Regions from separate parts of the Homo sapiens genome. Here all the other regions are linked to region 3. Evidence: fine-mapped expression QTL. A gene starts in region 3. Each other region holds a variant in brackets. All regions are shown on one strand. Distances are from middle to middle.

Region 1 (2,758 bases), 420 kb before region 3:
CCCAAACCTGTCTACCGCAACCCTCTGTGCTATGGGCTCTCAACTTGTCTGGGGGAAGGAGCAGTGAAGAGGCCACTGGATGTTGACTGGACTCTGGCGACTGGGCCCCTGTTGCCCTCAGCTGACCCACCCTGCTCTCTGGCCCCAGCTCCTAGCAAGGGCCAGACTCTGGATGGCACCTTCTTGCGGGGGGTGCCAGCTGAGGGGTCCAGTAAAGACTCCTCAGGGAGCTTCTCCCCATGCCAGCCCTTCCTGGAGAAATATCAGACCATCCACAGCACGGGCTTCCTGGCCTCCAGGTACACAGGTCCTTACCCTAGGAACTCCAAGCAAGCAATGTCTGAGGGGCCCTCAAGTCCTTGGACCCAGCTGGCCCAGCCCCTGGGGCCACCCTGTCAGGACACCGGGCCCACCCACTACCCACCACCCCACCACCCACCACCCCACCCTCCACAGGCCCTGCCTTGCCCTCCAGCCTGTCGCCACCCAGAGAAGCAGGGCAGCTACAGCCCAGCACTCCCACTGCAGCCTCTGGGGGGCCACAAGGGGACCGGGTACCAGGCTGGTGGGCTGGGCAGCCCCTACCTGAGGCAGCAGGCAGCCCAGGCACCTTACATTCCCCCACTGGGGCTGGACGCTTACCCCTACCCCTCTGCCCCTCTCCCAGCACCCTCTCCAGGCCTCAAGCTGGAGCCGCCTCTCACTCCACGGTGCCCATTGGACTTTGCCCCCCAGACACTGAGTTTTCCTTATGCCCGGGATGACCTCTCTCTCTATGGAGCATCCCCTGGGCTTGGAGGGACACCACCTTCCCAGAACAATGTGCGGGCTGTGCCACAGCCTGGTGCCTTCCAGAGGGCATGCCAGCCTTTGCCAGCGAGCCAGCCCTGCTCAGAGCCTGTGAGGCCTGCACAGGAAGCCGAAGAGAAGACCTGGCTGCCCAGCTGCAGGAAAGAGAAGCTCCAGCCCCGGCTCAGTGAGCACTCTGGGCCGCCCATCGTCATCCGAGACAGTCCAGTTCCCTGTACCCCCCCAGCACTGCCCCCCTGTGCCCGGGAGTGCCAGTCTCTTCCACAGAAGGAGGGCGCAAGGCCACCCAGCTCTCCACCAATGCCTGTCATTGACAATGTCTTCAGCCTGGCCCCCTACCGTGACTATCTGGATGTGCCGGCACCCGAGGCCACAACTGAGCCTGACTCTGCCACAGCTGAGCCTGAC[T/G]CAGCCCCAGCCACCAGTGAAGGTCAGGACAAAGGCTGCAGGGGGACCCTGCCTGCCCAGGAGGGCCCCTCAGGGAGTAAACCCCTAAGGGGCTCACTTAAGGAGGAGGTAGCCCTGGATTTGAGTGTGAGGAAGCCCACAGCAGAGGCCTCCCCTGTCAAGGCTTCCCGTTCTGTGGAGCATGCCAAGCCTACTGCAGCCATGGATGTGCCAGATGTGGGCAACATGGTGTCAGATCTGCCAGGCCTGAAAAAGATAGACACAGAAGCACCAGGCTTGCCTGGGGTGCCAGTGACCACAGATGCCATGCCAAGGACCAACTTCCACAGCTCTGTGGCCTTCATGTTCCGAAAGTTCAAGATCCTCCGTCCGGCACCTTTGCCTGCAGCCGTGGTCCCGTCCACGCCCACCTCAGCTCCTGCTCCCACACAGCCTGCACCCACCCCCACATCTGGGCCCATTGGACTGCGGATTCTCGCTCAACAGCCCTTGTCTGTGACCTGCTTCAGCCTGGCACTGCCCAGCCCTCCAGCCGTAGCTGTGGCCTCCCCTGCCCCTGCTCCAGCTCCATCCCCTGCTCCGGCTCGAGCTCAGGCTCCAGCTTCAGCCCGGGATCCAGCTCCAGCTCCAGCTCCAGTTGCAGGCCCTGCTCCAGCATCTACTTCAGCCCCAGGGGACTCCCTGGAGCAGCATTTTACAGGACTACATGCGTCCCTGTGTGATGCTATTTCTGGCTCCGTCGCCCACTCTCCTCCAGAGAAGCTTCGCGAGTGGCTAGAGACGGCTGGGCCCTGGGGCCAGGCTGCGTGGCAGGACTGCCAGGGTGTGCAGGGGCTGCTGGCCAAGCTGCTGTCTCAGCTGCAGCGCTTCGATCGCACCCACCGGTGCCCCTTCCCCCATGTGGTGCGAGCTGGCGCCATCTTCGTGCCCATTCACCTGGTGAAGGAGCGGCTCTTCCCTCGGCTGCCACCCGCTTCTGTGGACCATGTGCTGCAGGAGCATCGTGTGGAGCTGCGGCCCACCACGCTGTCGGAGGAGCGGGCACTGCGGGAGCTCGCCCTGCCAGGCTGCACCTCACGCATGCTGAAGTTACTGGCGCTGCGCCAGCTGCCGGACATTTACCCCGACCTTCTCGGCCTGCAGTGGCGCGACTGTGTACGCCGCCAGCTGGGTGAGCATGGGGCAGCCCCAGTGGCCACCGGAGCTGTGTGAGCAAGTGACAGGTGTGTGTGCTGTGTGAGTGCGTCACAGCTGGGGCTGAGTGATTCCAAGGACTCCTGCCCGGGTAGGGGGCTTTAGGATGAGCTCTAGGTACCCCCACCCCTTGACCCTCCAGACAATCAGTGAGCACCTTCATAGCCTCTTTTGTAGGCTTCTGAACATGCCAGCTGCTCTGTCCCCATGGAAACTCCTCGGCCTCCCCTGGTGCTGCACCTTCTTGGATTCCCTCCTCCTCTGCCTGTGCCTTCTCCATCTTTGGTGCAGTGTTTCCGGCACTCTGGTTAGGCCCTGTTTTCTAGCTGAGATAATTTCCCTGATC
Region 2 (2,758 bases), 370 kb after region 3:
AACCAGGGAGGCAGAGGCTGCAGTAAGCCATGACCGCACCACTGCACTCCAGTATGGGAGTCGTCTCACTCCAGAGTGAGACCCTGTCTCAAAAAAAAAAAGAAAGAAAGAAAGAAAGAAAAGCAGTTTATCTTGGCTCATGCTTCTGGAGGCTATACAGGAAGCATGGTGCCAGCATCTGCTTCTGGTGAGCACTCAGGAAGTGTACAATCATGGCAGAAGGTGAGGGGGAGCCAGTGTATCACCTGGTGAGAGAGGGAGCAAGAGAGAAAAGGGGAAGACCACAGACTCTTTTAAACAATCAGATCTCACATTAGCTAATAGAGCAAGAACTCATTACCATGAGGAGGGCACCAAGCCATTCATAAAGGGTCTGCCCTCATGATCCAAACACCTCCCACTAGGCCCCCCCGCCCCAAACACTAGGGATCATACTTCAACATGAGATTTGGAGAGAGGATACATATCCAAACTATATCACACCTCAACTATATTTAGGTTGTGTATTAAGTACAAGTGGGAAACTGATGTGATGTCTAATACTTAGAGCTGAAGGAAATAAGATTATATAATGCAAATTGAATTATAAAGTCAATGGATCAGAGTAGAATAAAGCAAAGTTCCTTTAAATAATAGAGACTAGCTGAATATGCATTAACATATCTAAAGAAAGAGCTGTCAGTCTGAGGAGTTGGTTGGCAAGGGACACTCACAGAAAGGAGAGGCACAGAGGCAAACATCGGCAGTGCCTATCTAAGCACTGTTAAGTAGAGAGGGTATTGTAGCCAGAAGACTTCATGCATTACAGTTCTAAGTCAGATTATCTCTCTTGTGGAAATAAATGCATCAGACTAATTACAGGTAGACTTTCATATTATATAATTCTTGTTGTTTTCTTGTTTTCTCTATATCCATTAAAATATTCTGATTACAAATTTGGCTTCCCATACATGTCAGTCTACAGAGAAAAAGAATGCCTGGCTCACATCAACTCAAGCCTGTGTCAGTTATATATCATCATACATTAACAAATTGAAGTATCCAGCCTGGGCAACATAACGAGGCCACGTCTCAATAAATAAATAAGAATGCTTACTTTAGACACTAGCTCTGTAAGCCTAATCAATGTGTATCTGCTGTGAGAGATGAGATCCCTCACAATGTACTTCATTTAACTCTTAACAATCTACACTGAGGGGAGACCTCAGATTGTGATAATACCATGGTCACACAGTACTCATTGGGGCTATTTATTCCCTAGATATACCAACTTCATTGAGTAGTATGAATCTTTTAACTACAAGAGTTTGAAGCTCAGTTATTCACATTATTAAACAAATGAGCCTTGCTTTTTAATAGAGCATGTGTGTTTAGCTATAGAAGACAGTGAAATAAAGAGATACAAAAGAACACACTTTTGAAAGGTCAGGAAACTAGATAATAGTTCCTGACATAAAATTTCTTAGAGTAGCAAAGAAGAGATTTGGTCACAAAATTGGAAAAAGTGCCAAATTTCTATTTGTAACCATTTATTTTTATAGCAACTAGTGACTTGCTTAGATCATTCGTCTACATAATGATAGTACTAGATCCCAACATTATATTTATTATTACTACATTTGTTTATAGTCTTGGTAGGAATCAGATGAAATGGCTGTGTCAGAATATGAAAATAAATTTGATTCTAGATCAAACCTTGAATGTTTT[C/T]GGTGAAATGTATTATAGGAATTATATCATAAAGATCTATAAATATCCATATTACACATCACTACTTGATGGCCAGAATTAGCTCTATATTTGGAATTCTCTTCTAACACATATTGGTTGAGAAACTTTGTAAAAAGGATGAGGTAGGTGTCAATGAGAGAAAAATTATTTTAATAGTATTTTTAAGGCTTTTTTTCATGATCTTCTCCCCATTTGAGACTTTTCCCACTATAATACTTAGTAGACTAAGAAAAGCTTGAGATTTCCAGAGAGCTGATGTTATACATTTAATGAGAGAAAAAAATATGTAAACTAAATAAGGGCAAAAATCATTTCAGTAACATTTCTGTACAAAATTACAAATAACTTTTTACGAGATAATTCATCTAATTTTCTCTGAGAAAATTTTTATTTTTTGATACTAATTCAACTCCATTAATATTTAAAAATCTGTATTGCAAAGATATATATTGCAAAGATATTCTTCATAGAATTTCATCTCATCATCTTCTTACCCTTCTTTGCTTGGTATTAAATACCCCTATTTTTTAGTGATTGAAATTTCCAAATCCTTTTCCATCTTGGTTTTTCTCAAAAATTCACTCGAGAAACATTTTTGAGTAGTTTATTAAATTCTATGATATATACTAGATGTAGAAAATTCAAAGACAAGAGAATTATTCAGTCCCAAGGGGCTTAGATTCTATTAGAGAACAACAGACACATAAACACTAAGTACAGTAGAGAGAGATATAAGATAGAAATACGTCTGGGTACAGTGTGAGCATATAATAGTCAACAAAGTTAATACTAGCTGCCTTTAATTGCAAACTTACAAATACTGGTGACTTCATACAATGAAAGTTTAATCCTTGCTCACACTACTGTCTAATGCCCAATGCCAGTCAGGCAGCCCTTCTCCATCTCTTGGCCCTGACACCTGGAGAACATGGCCTCCAAGGTCACTAAGGCAGGAAAAATGAGAGCTGGAGTTTTTCAGGAGTTGGTTTTTCAGGGCCAGACTTGTGACTGGCTTGCATCCCTTTTGCCC
Region 3 (2,758 bases):
CATGCACTATCTTGGTGTGGGCTCCCGCTCTGCCAAGAACCACACAACCTTTGAAACTGATGTCCTGGGCCTGGCGCGGTGGCTCACGCCTGTAATCCCAGCACTTTGGGAGGTTGAAGCGGGCAGATCACCTGAGGTTAGGAGATCGAGACCATCCTGGCTAACACAGTGAAACCCCGTCTCTACTAAAAAAAAAAAAAAAAATACAAAAAAATTAGCCAGGCATGGTGACGGGCGCCTGTAGTCCCAGATGCTCGGGAGGCTGAGGCAGGAGAATGGCTTGAACCCGTAAGGCGGAGCTTGCAGTGAGTCGAGATCGTGCCACTGCACTCCAGCCTGGACTTCGTCTCAAAAAGAAAAAAAAAAGAAAAACTGATGTCCTGGATACTGGGGCGGTTCCTTTACCTTCCTTCAAGGCTGTTCTTGGCGGGTTCCTGCTGTTTCGTTTTGTTTTTTCTTTGTTGTTGTTGTTTTTTTTTTGAGACAGAGTTTCGCTCTTGTTGCCCAGGCTGGAGTGCAGTGGCATGATCTCGGCTCACTGCAACCTCCATCTCCCGGATTCAAGCGATTCTCCTGCCTCAGCCTCCCGAGTAGCTGGGATTACAGGCACGCGCCACAACGCCCGGCTAATTTTTTTTGTATTTTTAGTACAGATGGGGTTTCACCATGTTGGTCAGGCTGGTCTCAAACTCCTGACCTCAGGTGATCCGCCCACCTCGGCCTCCCAAAGTGCTGGGATTACAGGCGTGAGCCACTGCGCCCCGCCGGGCTCCTGCTGTTTCAACCCATTCCTTGGATGGTGCTGCCTCCAAGTGTTCGGACCTTAGCCCCAGGTGGTCTTAGCACCAGTAACCCCCGCTCCAACTCCCTAAAGTCCGACCCGCCCCAGGCCCCGCCCACGCTCCACCCTCCCTCCCTGTCTAGCCCCCTCCCCCATCCCCTTCCCCCTCCTTCGCGTCTCCCCATCCGGCGCCCCCGCCTCGCGTCCCCTGGGTCCGCATCCTGGCAGCCTCCGCGTTTCCCTACCCCTGCTACCGGGCTCCAGCCCCGGGGACGCTATCTGCTTCACTCGGCCGTGCGCGCCGCCACCGCCCCGCACTGCCTTTTTCTAGGCATGGGGTCATCTAGGCCATGCATGATTCGCCCCTGCCCCACAGAAGTCCCTGAGGGGTCCTGGCCGGACAGCACGGAATAGAAGAACGGAAACTCTCCCAAAAGGAGTCCCAGGCCTGGCTCTATCCCTCCAGATGACGTCCCAGGAGGCCAGAGTGCAGGGCCGGCCAGAGGGAGTCACAGTCCGGCACCGAGAGGCAACTCGGCAGCTGGCGGGGCCCGGGCTCGAACCCAGGGACTCACCCAAACCGAGGTGACCGTCGCACGCGCCGCCGCCACCGGGGCCGACGAATCACCTGCCCTGGGAAGCTAGGTCCGCCCTCCCCCCGCCCCCAGCTGCTGCCTCACCGCTGGGCCCACAGGCCTCGCGCCCTGAGTTTCCGGCTCCTCCCTCCTTTGCGAACGCTGGGAGTTCCGTTGCCTACAGGCCGTTATTTCCGCCTTCAACGGCTGGGGCATTTCCCATCGGCTAGGGAGGGGGTCTTCTTGCATTTGCTTTGCACTGTCCGGGACTCTTCCTGCTAGATGACTTGACCAGGCCGAGGCCTCCCTCCTGAACACAAGCTCTTCGGGGCTCCTTTCGCCAATGGGAGGAGGCTGATCTTGTGGCCGGGCATTCAACGCCCTGGGCCCTGCCGCCTCCCGCAGATCTTCCCGGGCCTTAGGGCTTCACCTGGAGTCCCCTTCCCCTCTTGGGCCCGTGCTCTTAAACGGGCAGTGCCAATTGCCTGGATTACTCCAACTAACCCCTCACACCCAAGTTTCAGACACAGACCTTCGCTCCCCCACTTGCCCTTAACAAAAGCAGATACATACCTCGATTACTGCCTGTTTGCTGCTTTTGCGAGCTTCTTTCCCACTCGGCTGCGGGCTGAGCAATGGTAGGGACCTGGCTTGATTCCTATTTAAGTAGCCAGAGTCCAGCACAAGGGATGGCGCTCAGTAGACCCTGCGTGAAGGAATGATTAAATTGGTGCAAAAGACTAGGGTAAGCGGCAGAGATTTAGGAGATTAAGTCCTGCCAGGGTGTAGCCTCTGCAGGGCGGGAAGGCTGAGATTACAATTTTAAAACTGAATATTTATTGAATGCTTACATTCAGCCAATCCCTGCTTCACACCCATCATCTCATTTAATTTTTTTCCTTTTTTTTCTTTTTTAAGCCAGTAGATATTAACTCTTAATCATGACATGAGGAAGTAGACACACTGAAGCTCAGAGAGGTTAAGTAATTTGGCCAAAGTAACACAGCTTTCAAGGAAAATGTTTGAATTTGCTGAAAGTTTGATGTATAGGGAAGTTGACTACCGATGTATGACAGAAGCAAAGTATCCACCTTTGGCACATTTTGCGTCCACGGAATGCTAAAATTTGGACTTGTGTATTTTATGCACATTACACCATACATTCAGACTAAAAAGAATAGGAAATTAGGCTGATGAAAGGCTATTACTAGACTGGTAAAAAGGGTTCTGGGGCCCTGGAAGGCCAATTTTTCTGGACGTGAGATTTTTTTTTATTTTTTTGAGATGGAGTCTCGCTCTGTCGCCCAGGCTCTGGAGTGCAGTGGCGCAATCTCCGCTCACTGCAAGCTCCGCCTCCCGGGTTCACGCCATTCTCCTGCCTCAGCCTACTGAGTAGCTGGGA

Direction of the effects. Positions count from the first base shown, and alleles are read on the strand shown. Sizes are in standard deviations (SD) of each study's normalised expression. Not every link is listed here.
As copies of G replace T in region 1, the expression in pancreas of the gene that starts at base 1,416 in region 3 goes up (small effect, 0.38 SD a copy in GTEx).

Evidence for each region. PIP is the estimated chance that this variant, and not a neighbour inherited with it, causes the effect.
Region 1: its variant is fine-mapped to the expression of SNUPN in pancreas (GTEx, PIP above 0.99).
Region 2: its variant is fine-mapped to the expression of SNUPN in whole blood (INTERVAL, PIP 0.91).

Annotation. Positions count from the first base shown.
Region 1 is chr15:75,206,436-75,209,193 of GRCh38, forward strand. C15orf39 (chromosome 15 open reading frame 39) reads left to right here. Exons shown (of 3, transcript NM_015492.5): 2 at 1-2,389. Among named protein-coding and RNA genes, the nearest start is that of C15orf39, 5.9 kb to the left of the region's middle. RefSeq lists an enhancer at 840-889. The variant T/G (reference allele first, on the strand shown) is at 1,219.
Region 2 is chr15:75,995,108-75,997,865 of GRCh38, forward strand. The region is part of intron 3 of NRG4 (neuregulin 4); the gene reads right to left. Among named protein-coding and RNA genes, the nearest start is that of NRG4, 16 kb to the right of the region's middle. The variant C/T (reference allele first, on the strand shown) is at 1,708.
Region 3 is chr15:75,624,310-75,627,067 of GRCh38, forward strand. SNUPN (snurportin 1) reads right to left here and starts at 1,416. Exons shown (of 9, transcript NM_005701.4): 1 at 1,357-1,416. RefSeq lists a silencer at 895-944 and an enhancer at 1,595-1,784.